Homo sapiens: one gene and its partners. The protein of the gene in region 3 purifies or fractionates together with the protein of the main gene of each other region. This does not show direct contact. Each region holds a gene or a part of one and is shown on either strand. Other genes may lie near its edges. The genes, in order: ABCD4, LRIG1 and ANKH.

Region 1 (3,724 bases), on a different chromosome or scaffold from region 3:
TAGTAGACGAGGGTGAACGGGGAGATGATGAGCTTGCTGGCCATGCTGCTGAGCTGCCGGCAGAATCGCTCCACGTCCTGGCTGATGCGCTGGTCCCTGGAGCCAATGACACAGAGTAGCTGGACCCAGGGAGATGGGCCCAAAGGTAGAGAGAACAAGAAACTTTCACATCACCTCTGCTCTTGACCTTGCCTCACAGTGCTGTGAACACTGACCCTATGGGAAGAGGGAACCAGACAAGGCTGGTTTCCTAGGGGCAACTAAATCCCAGGGCCTTTAAACAGGGTTCTAGAGAGTTGCATCTTACGGTGCCTTAGTTAATCCCCTGAAAAAGTGGGAACTGAAAGGTCCAGTACCCAGGGGCCTGAGCCAGCTCTGAGCAGAGCCAAAGAAAAACTTGAAGGTAGATGAGCTGTTTTGGATGATCAAGAAGACTATCCCCTTTATCTCAATCCTCCCAAATTTCTCTTATATAAGCCCTAGCCTGGCCCCTTTAGTTATCTGGCTGTGAAAGCTCCAGGCTGTGAGGCACACCTGTAGTCCCAGCTACTCAGGGGGCAGAGGCAGGATGGAAGCCATAGCCATCAGAAAGAGGCCTAGAAGTTAGGCAGCAGCAGCAGCCTCCCACGCATCTTTGCACCAAAGCTAAGCTTGAGCTGAGAGGTACCCCAACCAACAAAGTGCTTGCTAGGAAGGTGGTGAGTGAGGGGATGGGTGTGAAGGAGACCCCCTATGTCTCATCTCACCACTAGGGCCATACTGATTCCTATTCCCAATGAGTGACGTGACCTTGGGCAAGTCACTTGCAATCTCTGGGCTTCAGCTTCCTCATCTGTAAAATAACAATAGCTAACTTACACTGAAACACTTGCTATGTGTCAAGCACTGTACATGTGCATTACATGAATGATATTTCATCCTCACTACACCCTTTGAGATAGGAACTATTATTGTCCTCATTTTACAGAAGGGGAACCTGGGGCTTGGTGACTTTAAGAGTTATAACCTGAGTGGTGATAGAATGGAGATGTGAATCCTAGACTGAGTCCTGGATAGTGGTAATTTTTTTTACTGATGAAAATCTAAGAGCTGGTTTTTCTAGCAAGGACATTTTCTTTAGAACCCTCTAAAGAAACCCCTTAGTCTTCTTACTGGAAGACTAAGATATAAAGTATGAAAAGGACAAAAGAAAGCTGCTCCTAACATTTTTCTTTTTTTTAAGAGATGGGGGTTTCTGCTATGTTGCCCAGGCTAGAGTACAGTGGCTATTCCCAAGTGTGCTCACGGTGCACTACTCCTGGGCTCAAGTGATCCTCCTGCCTCAGCCTCCTGAGTTGTTGGGACTACAGGTGCATGCCACTGCACCTGGCAGGCTTCTTCTTTTTAGCTGCCTATTCACAGCCCTGCAGCTTCTCCAGGAGTCCTCTGCAGGGCACCCTCCCCCATGACTCTGGGCAGCAGCATTTGAAAACGACTGCAGATGATCTCCTTGGTGTCTGCCACCAGCAGTCTCCAGGGCTAGGCCAGAAGGAAAGGACCACACAGAGTGTAGAAAGGACTGAGTTGGGGCGCCTACGGGTTATCGATGTCATCCCGCAGCACGTTGAGGGTGTAGTACGCACGGCCCCGGAAGTAGAGGCGGTGAAGGTGCTCAGTGAGGTCCTTCCTCCAGCTCACATACAGCAGGTTGCAGGTGAACTGATCAAAGCTCTTCAGCTGTGCAGTGGGGGAAGCAAGGGGAAGGGAGAGATGGCTTCCTGAAAATCTCAGCTCAAAGCTCAAGGCTCGCAAGAGCCTCCGCTGACCCATCCCAGCCCACTCTGACTCTGATTACTCCGTCCACTCAGCACTTTTCTTTTTTAAATCATCGAGTCATGGGACTTTCCCTTCCTCACTCACTCACGTGTTCATTCCTTCACCAAATTTTTTTTCTCTGAGATGGAGTTTTACTCTTGTTGCCCAGGCTGGAGTGCAATGGCGCGATCTTGGCTCACCACAACCTCCGCCTCCCAGTTTCAAGCGATTCTCCTGCCTCAGCCTCCCGAGTAGCTGGGATTACAGGCATGCACCACCACGCCCAGCTAATTTTGTATTTTTAGTAGAGACGGGGTTTCTCCATCTTGGTCAGGCTGGTCTGGAACTCCCGACCTCAGGTGATCCGCCCGCCTCGGCCTCTCAAAGTGCTGGGATTACAGGCGTGAGCCACTGTACCCAGCCTCCTTCACCAAATATTAAAGGGCTTACCAGAGGCAAGACCCTCTTTCTACACTGTCTTATTTTGAGAGTAGATGAGCTTCTGAAGATTGGAGACCATATTGTCGATTCCATTTATGTTCTTACTCCTTTGTCCCCCAAGCTTGGGACAGAGATTTGTATGCATAGGTGCTTACTGACCGAAGACCCAACAAAAGTGGCCATGGTACGATGAGCAGTGGCTTCCCCAAGAAAACAGGTGGCACAGCCTGGCAGACAGCATTAGGCTTGAGTTCTGGTACAGCCCTGAGTCTCATCATTTACCATTTCCAGGGCACCTATGTGCTAAGCACTAGGGACATTATGAGCTCACAGTTTAGCCAGAAAACAATTACAAGCGTGTGAGGAGTGTTACAGCGAGGTAAACTCAAGGAATTCGTTAAGTACAGAAAAAGGGCAGAGTTTGGTGGAGGAGACACAAAGGAGAAAGCTGAGAAAGACTTGAAAGAGGTGACAACGGAGGGATGACGAAGAGTGAGCAGGTGGTAGCCCCCCTACTGAATGAGGGGTAGGGGAGGAGGCCATTCTGCAAGAAAGCACTGTTCAAAGGCTGGGAGGTGTGACATGGTGCCAGGGTGAGTCACAGCCTCGGTCCCGCAGAGGAGGAGCAGCAGCTCTGGCTGCTGAGCCGTTTTAATGAGCTGCCGGAAATAAGAGTTCTAGGAAGGAAAGGGGCAATGATCAGTTCTGCTAAATGCTGAATTAAACCAGAACCTGTGGCCTGGGCCCAGGAGTGGAAACATCTGAGGAATCAGTCCCACGTGGGCCAATAGCAAGATCAACGTGCTTAATAAAGGCAACTATCCCTTTAGTTCCCAGAAAAGGGAGGAAACACACCCCCACAGCTTGCTTCCTGCTTCCTGGAGGCTAAGTTCCACTAGGCATTACGGTCACACTGGACTGGAGAGGACGAGAGACACAGAGAGAGGGAAAGATCTTACCGTGGAGTTCAGAACAATGAGCATGACAGCCAGGAATGTCAGAGTCTTAAACCCTTCCAAGTCTTTGTTTCCCAGGACCCCATAGTACTGACTGGGGATCAAGCCAACCTGGTAGATCACAAATTGCTCTGAAAGGAGGGAGAGGAGTAAGAAATCAGTGATGAGGGGTTAAAAAGAAGGGAGGCTTCTTCCTGAGTCCCTGCCTCATCAGCACCCCAAAGAGATGAAAAGGGGCCGGGCGCGGTGGCTCACGCCTGTAATCCCAGCACTTTGGGAGGCTGAGGCGGGTGTATCACCTGAGGTCATGAGTTCGAGATCAGCCTGGCCAAGATGGTGAAACCCTGTCTTTACTGAAAAATACAAAGTTTAGTCGGGCGTGGTGGTGGGTGCTTGTAATCCCAGCTACTCAGGAGGCGAAGGCAGGAGAATCACTTGAACCAGGGAGGCAGAGGTTGCAGTGAGCTGAGATTATGTCACTGCACTCCAGCCTGGGCAACAAGAGAGAAACTCTGTCTCAAAAAAAAAAAAAA
Region 2 (3,724 bases), on a different chromosome or scaffold from region 3:
AAGGAGGCATCTTGGTACAGGTTATGCTGAAGAAGTTCAAATGCTCAGACGAGAGATGCACTGCAGTATTCCCATGGTTTAGAGAAAAAATATTCAGGACTTGGAAGTTGCAGCTGAAGACTCAAGATGGGAAAGACTGACCCACGGCTGCCGAACTGGAGGCTGCACCAGGCGCTCAGCGTGGGGAAGCTTTTTCCAACACTAGGAGCCAGCATCCTGTCCAGCACAACGTGGGCATCACTGCTTGAGAACAACTACTTTTTAGGAGCTGCCATCCCTCTCTAGGCACCATCCTGGGGAAATGAGAGATTTTTCTGCTTAACCAGTTCTTTTTCAGTTGATTACATAAAAGTTTGAGACTCTGCACATAGAGCAAGCCAGCTTTGGATCCAATTCTGACTCGAAGCCAACGCAAATGGAGTTCAACAAAGCAGATGGTTTGCTCTATTCTGCTCTCCCCACTGGGGACCCCTTTATCCTGTCAGTAGTGGGAGACGTACAAGACTCGCAGGCTCCTGAGTCCCTTGAAGGCACCCTCCGCAATGTGGCTGATGGAATTGTGGCTGAGACGCAGGACACTCAGGCTGCTCAGCTCGGCCAGGCTCTCCTCGTCCAGCCGTGTCAGGTTGTTGAAGGACAGGACCCTGAGGAAAGGGAGGGCAGCAATGTCACCATCTAGTGTGGTTGCCCCCCAACCCCACCCCACCGGAAATTGGGCCACAGTCAGCTGGGTTTCAGTGGGAAATGACACAGATGCACACGCACGCGCGTGCGTGCACACACACACCCACACCCACAGAATCCTGGGGGTAAAAGTGGCCATGCAGCTAGAAACTCATCAGTGCCCAACACACTAGTCTGACTCGTAGAATGGGTGCATAGGTCACAGGGGCCAGGGTGGCTGTTAAACTGTGAAGACTACACACGAGGTCATGACACACAACAACTCTCAAGCTCCAGCGCCTTCATGCTGTCCAAGGCAGCTCCTGATTCAGGCTACAAAAGACCTCTCTCATAGCAGAAGCCTGGGATTCTGGAGATGACCCCGCAGCAAGCCAGGGAGCCCCAGTCACACTCCCTGCATCTGCCAGCAGAGGGCACCACTAGCCCCTGCGTGGGACAACCACACCTGTGCCTCATGCCTTAGTGGGGCAACTCCCCCAGGGCAGGAGGCTCCTGCTCAGGCCTCCCTGCCCCCATCCACGTGGACCTCAGAGCATGATCCCCTACTGCAGGCGGTAAAAGCACATGCTTTGCCCGAACCTCAGAATCAAAGCTTCCTCCCAGCACTCCTGCACCTCTGGGTTGCTTACGTGACATATTGGTCATCTATCGTTGAAAAATTGGGGCTGGGGCAGGGATAGGAAGATGGAAAATAAACTCAGAGAAGATTAATGAGCTTTTAAAGGCAGCTAGGAGCAGCATTCTTTCCCTCCTGGACAAATAAGTCAGGGTGTCTGTCAGTTAAACAGACCTGGCAGGAGATCAAAATTATATCCTCACCTGCAATTAAAGAATTTAGCTTAAAGGAGGGGTGGGAAACACATGCTGGGAAGCAATCCCAAATCTGCCTCTGAGGTTACCTGGATATGGTGCAAACTGCTAGGACTGCTCAAGCGCACTTCTGTGATCTTTGCTGCCCCTTCTAGAGGGCATGGAAGAGGGCTTCATGCCTTCCACCAGCTAGAGAGGGGATCCCGGACCCCGCAGAAGACAGCATGCCATCCCTGGGGCCACGATACACTGGTGAGTCAGAGGATGGCCCCTCACTTTAAGAATTGGACTGGCTCAGGCTTCGGGGACTTAAAAGACCTCTCTTGCTTCCCACACCTCCCGGCCCTGACCAACAAAACCAGGAGTCCCCTGGTGGGGTCACAGCTTGACTACAGAGCCTGAAAGGAGCCATCCAGCACCACATGGAATGCACAACTGCAGGCCCTGAAGCGTAGGAAGCTGAAACCAAAGGGTTAACACTCACAGAATCCAAGAAAAGTTAGGAAAGAGGCAGGACCACTGTGTTTTGCATTAGATAATGATGGAGTCACCAAAATATAAACTCCAAGTCAGTGTGTGTGTGTGTGTGTGTGTGTGTGTGTGTGTGTGTGTGTGTGTGTGGTGGGGGGAGGGGGGGAGGAGGAGGGAAGGAAGGACAGGGAGAGAGAGGAGAACACAGAAGACCAGACACAAACACCAGCTGCAAGAATCCACATTAGATTCACGCATCCCCTTGAGTTTGCCTGGTGAGGTCAAGAGAGAGACAGGACAGACTGAGGCTTGGCACTCTTAACAATCATTCACTTCAGTGGGTGAATTTTTTCCAACAGCCAAGCCTAGAAAAGGAAGAAAAAAACAAAACAAAACAAAAAAACCCACCCAACTCTTGTGAAAAATAAAGAAACACAGTAGACTAAACTGGAGCATATCAAATGGAAAGAACAGTGAAAACACAAACTATAGACTTGTAAAGATGTTCTCTGAGTCCTTAGGAATGCTGCGTTCACTGTCCAGTAACCCCACCCTGACATGATGGGGTGGCCAGGGCCACTGCCCATCGCTACCCAGGCGACAGTCTGTCACTACTAATCTCAGAACTTTGGGCAAGACAAGCTCAGTTCTCAGTCTCAACCTGGGACCCCTGTCTGGAAATCTCCAAAAGGAGCAAGAGGACCACACCACACATCTCTGAACTAAGCACGCACACGACTGCACAGGAGCCTCTGCCAGCAGGCCACTGCGGTGCAAAACAGAGAAAGGGAAGGGGCCAAGAACCTGGGCAGCTCATCTACAGGAAGGAAGGTGGCGACTCCGAGGACACAAATTCATCCACAGTCAGCGTTTCACTGTCTCTGTTTGAGCCCAAATGACCCCCTCACTGAAGAAGCACATGCTATTTGGTGTGGCCATTAACACACAGTCACTCTCAAAATGGCTCCTGTGAGCACTCTGCCATAGCTGCCCTTCCCCAGGAACTTTCTACCCCTGGAACTGTCTCCAAACCCAACAGGACCTTGGGGGCCAAGGCTCCCTGCAGGGACCTAGCTGCTACTCCTGGAGCCCCTGCTAATCCAAATGCAGAGGAAGTGAAGGGGAGATGAGGAAGGGACTGGGGCTCAAATCGCTGAGGGTTCCACCCTGGGCCTGGCTGGTTTGGGAACAGGGCTACTGGCCTGTCTCTGAGCCCTCCCCGAGGCCACTGTGTGGTGGAACGAACCAGGCCTAGCACTTTCACCTCCAAGCAGTGTCTAAAAACACTGCCACAGCCCAGAGCCGAGGACACTTACAACTCATGCAGCTTCTGGCAGAAGCTCCAGCCCTTGCGGTGAATGCGAGCGATGGAATTGTTGCTGAGGTGGAGCTGATGCAGGGCCGTGAGGCCGTAGAGCGAGCCGCTGTTCACTTCTACCAGGCTGTTGTACTCCAGGTGCCTGCAATGACAGCCATGCACAGGATGAAGAGGAGCTTTCACTCCCTTCACTGGACAGACAGCAAATGAGCAGCCACGCTGTACCTGACACTGCGGTCACACCAAGGCTAGAACAGTGCACGACAGAACTGTGGAGTCTAGTCGCACACATGTGCATGTGAGTAGGGGCTGGGAGAAGACAGGCAAATCAAAATGGATGACAGCACATGCCAAGGCCGACTCGAGTGTTCATAGGGCAAGAGGGAGCTTCCTAGAAGTGACTTTTTTGGCTGAGTAAAAGTGAACCAGGGCTGGGTGTGG
Region 3 (3,500 bases):
CTTGAGCTCAGGAGTTCAAAACCAGCCTGGGCAACATAGTGAAACCTCGTCTCTATTAAAAAAAAAAAAAGGCCAGGTGCTATAGCTCACACCTGTAATCCCGGCACTTTGGGAGGTGAGGTGGATGGATCACTTGAGGTCAGGAGTTCGAGACCAGCCTGGCCAACATGATGAAATTCTATCTCTACTAAAAAATACAAACAAACAAAAAATTAGCCAGGCATGGTATTGCATGCCTGTAATCCTAGCTACTCAGGAGGCTGAGGTGGGAGAATTGCATTGAACCCCAGGAGGCAGGGGTTGCAGTAAGCCAAGACTGTACCACTGCACCCTCCAGCCTGGGCGACAGAGCAAGACTCCGTCTAAAAAAAAAAAAAAAAAGAAATGCAAAATTAAAAAATAAAACCTCTCATGAGCTTTTAAGTTCCTGGCTTGTCAAGAACAAAACAATAGCAAAATTATGTTAAATGTTTCTTAGATGAGGTGTTTTATGATGATAAATATCACAGTTTATGGTTTCTTTTAAAAACATGTACAGATCTTTTGAAATGGAAATCCAGCTATGTATAAGATTCCACTGAAAGTTAAATAAGCTGCACATACGTGACCATGTAAAGGAATTACCTGTTAATGACCCCAGAGCCAGTGTGTGTGGAGGGGCTAGGAAAGAGCCTGTAACAGTCTCTCCAGAAACTTCTGATATTCTCCATGAACATTACCTGTTGTATATAGATTTCTTAGTCATTTTATAGCTCAGTCAGGGAGGAAACCAAATCTTATGGACTATTTCCTCTAACAAAACTAGCAAAACCTATTATCACATTTTTTCAATTTTGGTAGTGGCAGTAATTTGAGGTGGTGGGGGGAGCGTTTGAATTTTGTACTAAAAAAAGCTCTATGGAATAAAATGATCTGCTTTTAATATTAAACATAGGCACCATAGAAAATGGGAACACCTTTGGGAGGCCGAGGCGGGTGGATCATGAGGTCAGGAGATCGAGACCATCCTGGCTAACAAGGTGAAACCCCGTCTCTACTAAAAATACAAAAAATTAGCCAGGCGCGGTGGCGGGTGCCTGTAGTCCCAGCTACTCGGGAGGCTGAGGCAGGAGAATGGCGTGAACCCGGGAAGCGGAGCTTGCAGTGAGCCGAGATTGCGCCACTGCAGTCCGCAGTCCGGCCTGGGCGACAGAGCGAGACTCCGTCTCAAAAAAAAAAAGAAAATGGGAACACATCTCCTTTTGCAGAAACTGAAGAAACGTTTATATTATAGAGCCCTATAGGTATATAAAATACTTTACAATCATTGTATATCTAGAATTATTTTATCTCAATTTTTACAGATTGAGAATCAAAAGTATTAATCACGTACATTGATTGAGCACCTAGTATGTGCCTGTATCTCAGCATATGATATATATGAGGAAACAATGAGAGGCCTACGCTTGTTAAGGTACTTGTTCAAGATGACACGGGTAGTAAATGGCAGAGCTAAGGTTCAAGCCCATACCCACCTGGTCTTTATAAATTTAGGAATAAGTTCTAGCTTTTCTGATTCCCAGACTAGGTCTAAATTTAATCTTAGCTGTCGTATATTGAATTTTTTTTTTTTTTTTTTTTTTTGAGACTGAGTCTCACTTGTTGCCCAGGCTAGAGTACAGTGGTGTGATCTTGGCTCAATGCAGCCACCATTTCCCAGGCTCAAGCGATTCTCCTGCCTCAGTCCCCCGAGTAGCGGGGACTACAGGCGTGCACCACCACCCCCGGCTAATTTTTGTATATTTTGTAGAGACGGGGTTTCACCATGTTGCCCAGGCTGGTCTTCAACTCCTGAGCTCACGTGATCCACCTACCTTGGCCTTCCAAAACGTGAGCCACCACATCTGGCCTGTATATTGAATTTTAAAAACTCAACAGATGTAGGATGATTAAAAGGAGGGCTTCCAGGAAAGGGATATTATGACCAAGAAGTTCATTTTAAGAAAAGCTTAATTACCCAGATAATTAAGTCAACACTGTATCTTATTTTAACAAGGTTGGCATAGCTTTTGGTCAAGGGGGGATGAAAGAAACAACTGATACCTCACAATAAAGTTATTTAGAAGTCACTTGGTCTTTGTCATTAAAACAATACAGATTGCTAAGGAAAGGAGCATGTTGAGATAGTTTTTAAAAAATATATTTCTTTTAAAGTATCTGCAAATGTCCATTTGATCTCACCATGTCCAAAGAATTGTTATTCTGTTTAAATTTGGTTCAGAGTCCCCAATTTCCTTAAAAGCCAAATTCACCAAATGACATAGAACAAATTAGTGAGCTTTTTAAAAAGGTACTCAGTATTACTTAAAATATTAAGGGCAACGTTGCTGTGAAGACCTTGAAGGAGAAAAGAAAGTTGAAATTGTTCTCACTTAAGAAATGTGTTCTGCCTAGGGCCAGGTGATCTACTCTTTCATGCTCAAAGGAGAAATGGTGCCAGGCGCGGTGGCTCACGCCTGTAATCCCAGCACTTTGGGAGGCCAAGGCAGGTGGATCACCTGAGGTCAGGAGTTCAAGAGCAGCCTGGCCAACATGAAGAAACCCCGTCTCTACTAAAAATACAAAATTAGCGGGGCATGATGGCAGGCACCTGTAATCCCAGCTACTTGGGAGGCTGAGGCAGGAGAATCTTTTGAACCTGGGAGGCGGAGGTTGCAGTGAGCTGAGACCGCACTGAATACCTCAATACCTTTCAGATACTTTAGATATTTCAAATTGCCTTGTATGATTCACTGAATTTGGTTGGGTCTAATATGATAATTCAAAGACCAGAGCTGTTTATCTGTGAATGGAGAGTTTTGCACATGAATTGTGACAATTCCTGGAATAAGATGTGTAATAGGAGTGTTCATATATCTTCAGCCCTTTCTATTTAGGAAACCTAGAGTTAGGCTTCCACAGTATAAGAGGGTTCCAAATTATTAATATCACAAGATGGACAAAAAGAGAAGCCCAGGAAAAATAGCTTGGAGAAGTGCACCCTCTCCACACCTCCTCCCAAAGTATAACAAAAGTATTTCATTCGATTAGGAGGAATAGGAATAAAAAGGACAGATGCAGTATATGGCACTGGCTTCAACAGGGAAGAGACTCTTCATCAAAAGTCACTGAGCAATGGAGAGGACCTCCTTTGACAGTGCTTAAGAGCTTGCCTTAAGGAACATGACAGGGATCTGTTGTAAGATCCACTTCCTAAAGTGCTTAAAGAAAGAAATGGAAATCTCAAGCTAAGGCTCCGAGTCACTGTGAGGGAGACTTTCCCCCTCCAGTCTATTCTGTAGTAACAGAATAAATTTCAAAATAATTATTTTTCCTAATTATAAATAGAAGTAATATCAGCTAATTGTTTAAAGTTTGGTAAATATTTTTTAAATGTGAAAAAATGCCTCTAATTTCACTCCTAAAACTCATTTAACAATTTGGGTATCTCCTGCCAATTTATTATTTTATTTAATTTATTA

What was found.
Region 1: the proteins of ANKH (region 3) and ABCD4 purify together in Homo sapiens (co-immunoprecipitation; one large-scale study listed by IntAct). This does not show direct contact.
Region 2: the proteins of ANKH (region 3) and LRIG1 purify together in Homo sapiens (affinity purification with mass spectrometry; one large-scale study listed by BioGRID and IntAct). This does not show direct contact.

The regions. Positions count from the first base shown.
Region 1 is NC_000014.9:74,296,354-74,300,077, forward strand, and holds part of ABCD4 (lysosomal cobalamin transporter ABCD4), read right to left. Parts: intron 3,323-3,724; coding exon 3,195-3,322; intron 1,717-3,194; coding exon 1,577-1,716; intron 97-1,576; coding exon 1-96. UniProt on the Homo sapiens protein: Lysosomal membrane protein that transports cobalamin (Vitamin B12) from the lysosomal lumen to the cytosol in an ATP-dependent manner. Targeted by LMBRD1 lysosomal chaperone from the endoplasmic reticulum to the lysosomal membrane.
Region 2 is NC_000003.12:66,406,848-66,410,571, forward strand, and holds part of LRIG1 (leucine-rich repeats and immunoglobulin-like domains protein 1 isoform 1 precursor), read right to left. Parts: intron 3,645-3,724; exon of another isoform or gene 3,626-3,644; intron 3,426-3,625; coding exon 3,282-3,425; intron 645-3,281; coding exon 501-644; intron 1-500. UniProt on the Homo sapiens protein: Acts as a feedback negative regulator of signaling by receptor tyrosine kinases, through a mechanism that involves enhancement of receptor ubiquitination and accelerated intracellular degradation.
Region 3 is NC_000005.10:14,865,279-14,868,778, reverse strand, and holds part of ANKH (mineralization regulator ANKH), read left to right. Parts: intron 1-3,500. UniProt on the Homo sapiens protein: Transports adenosine triphosphate (ATP) and possibly other nucleoside triphosphates (NTPs) from cytosol to the extracellular space. Mainly regulates their levels locally in peripheral tissues while playing a minor systemic role.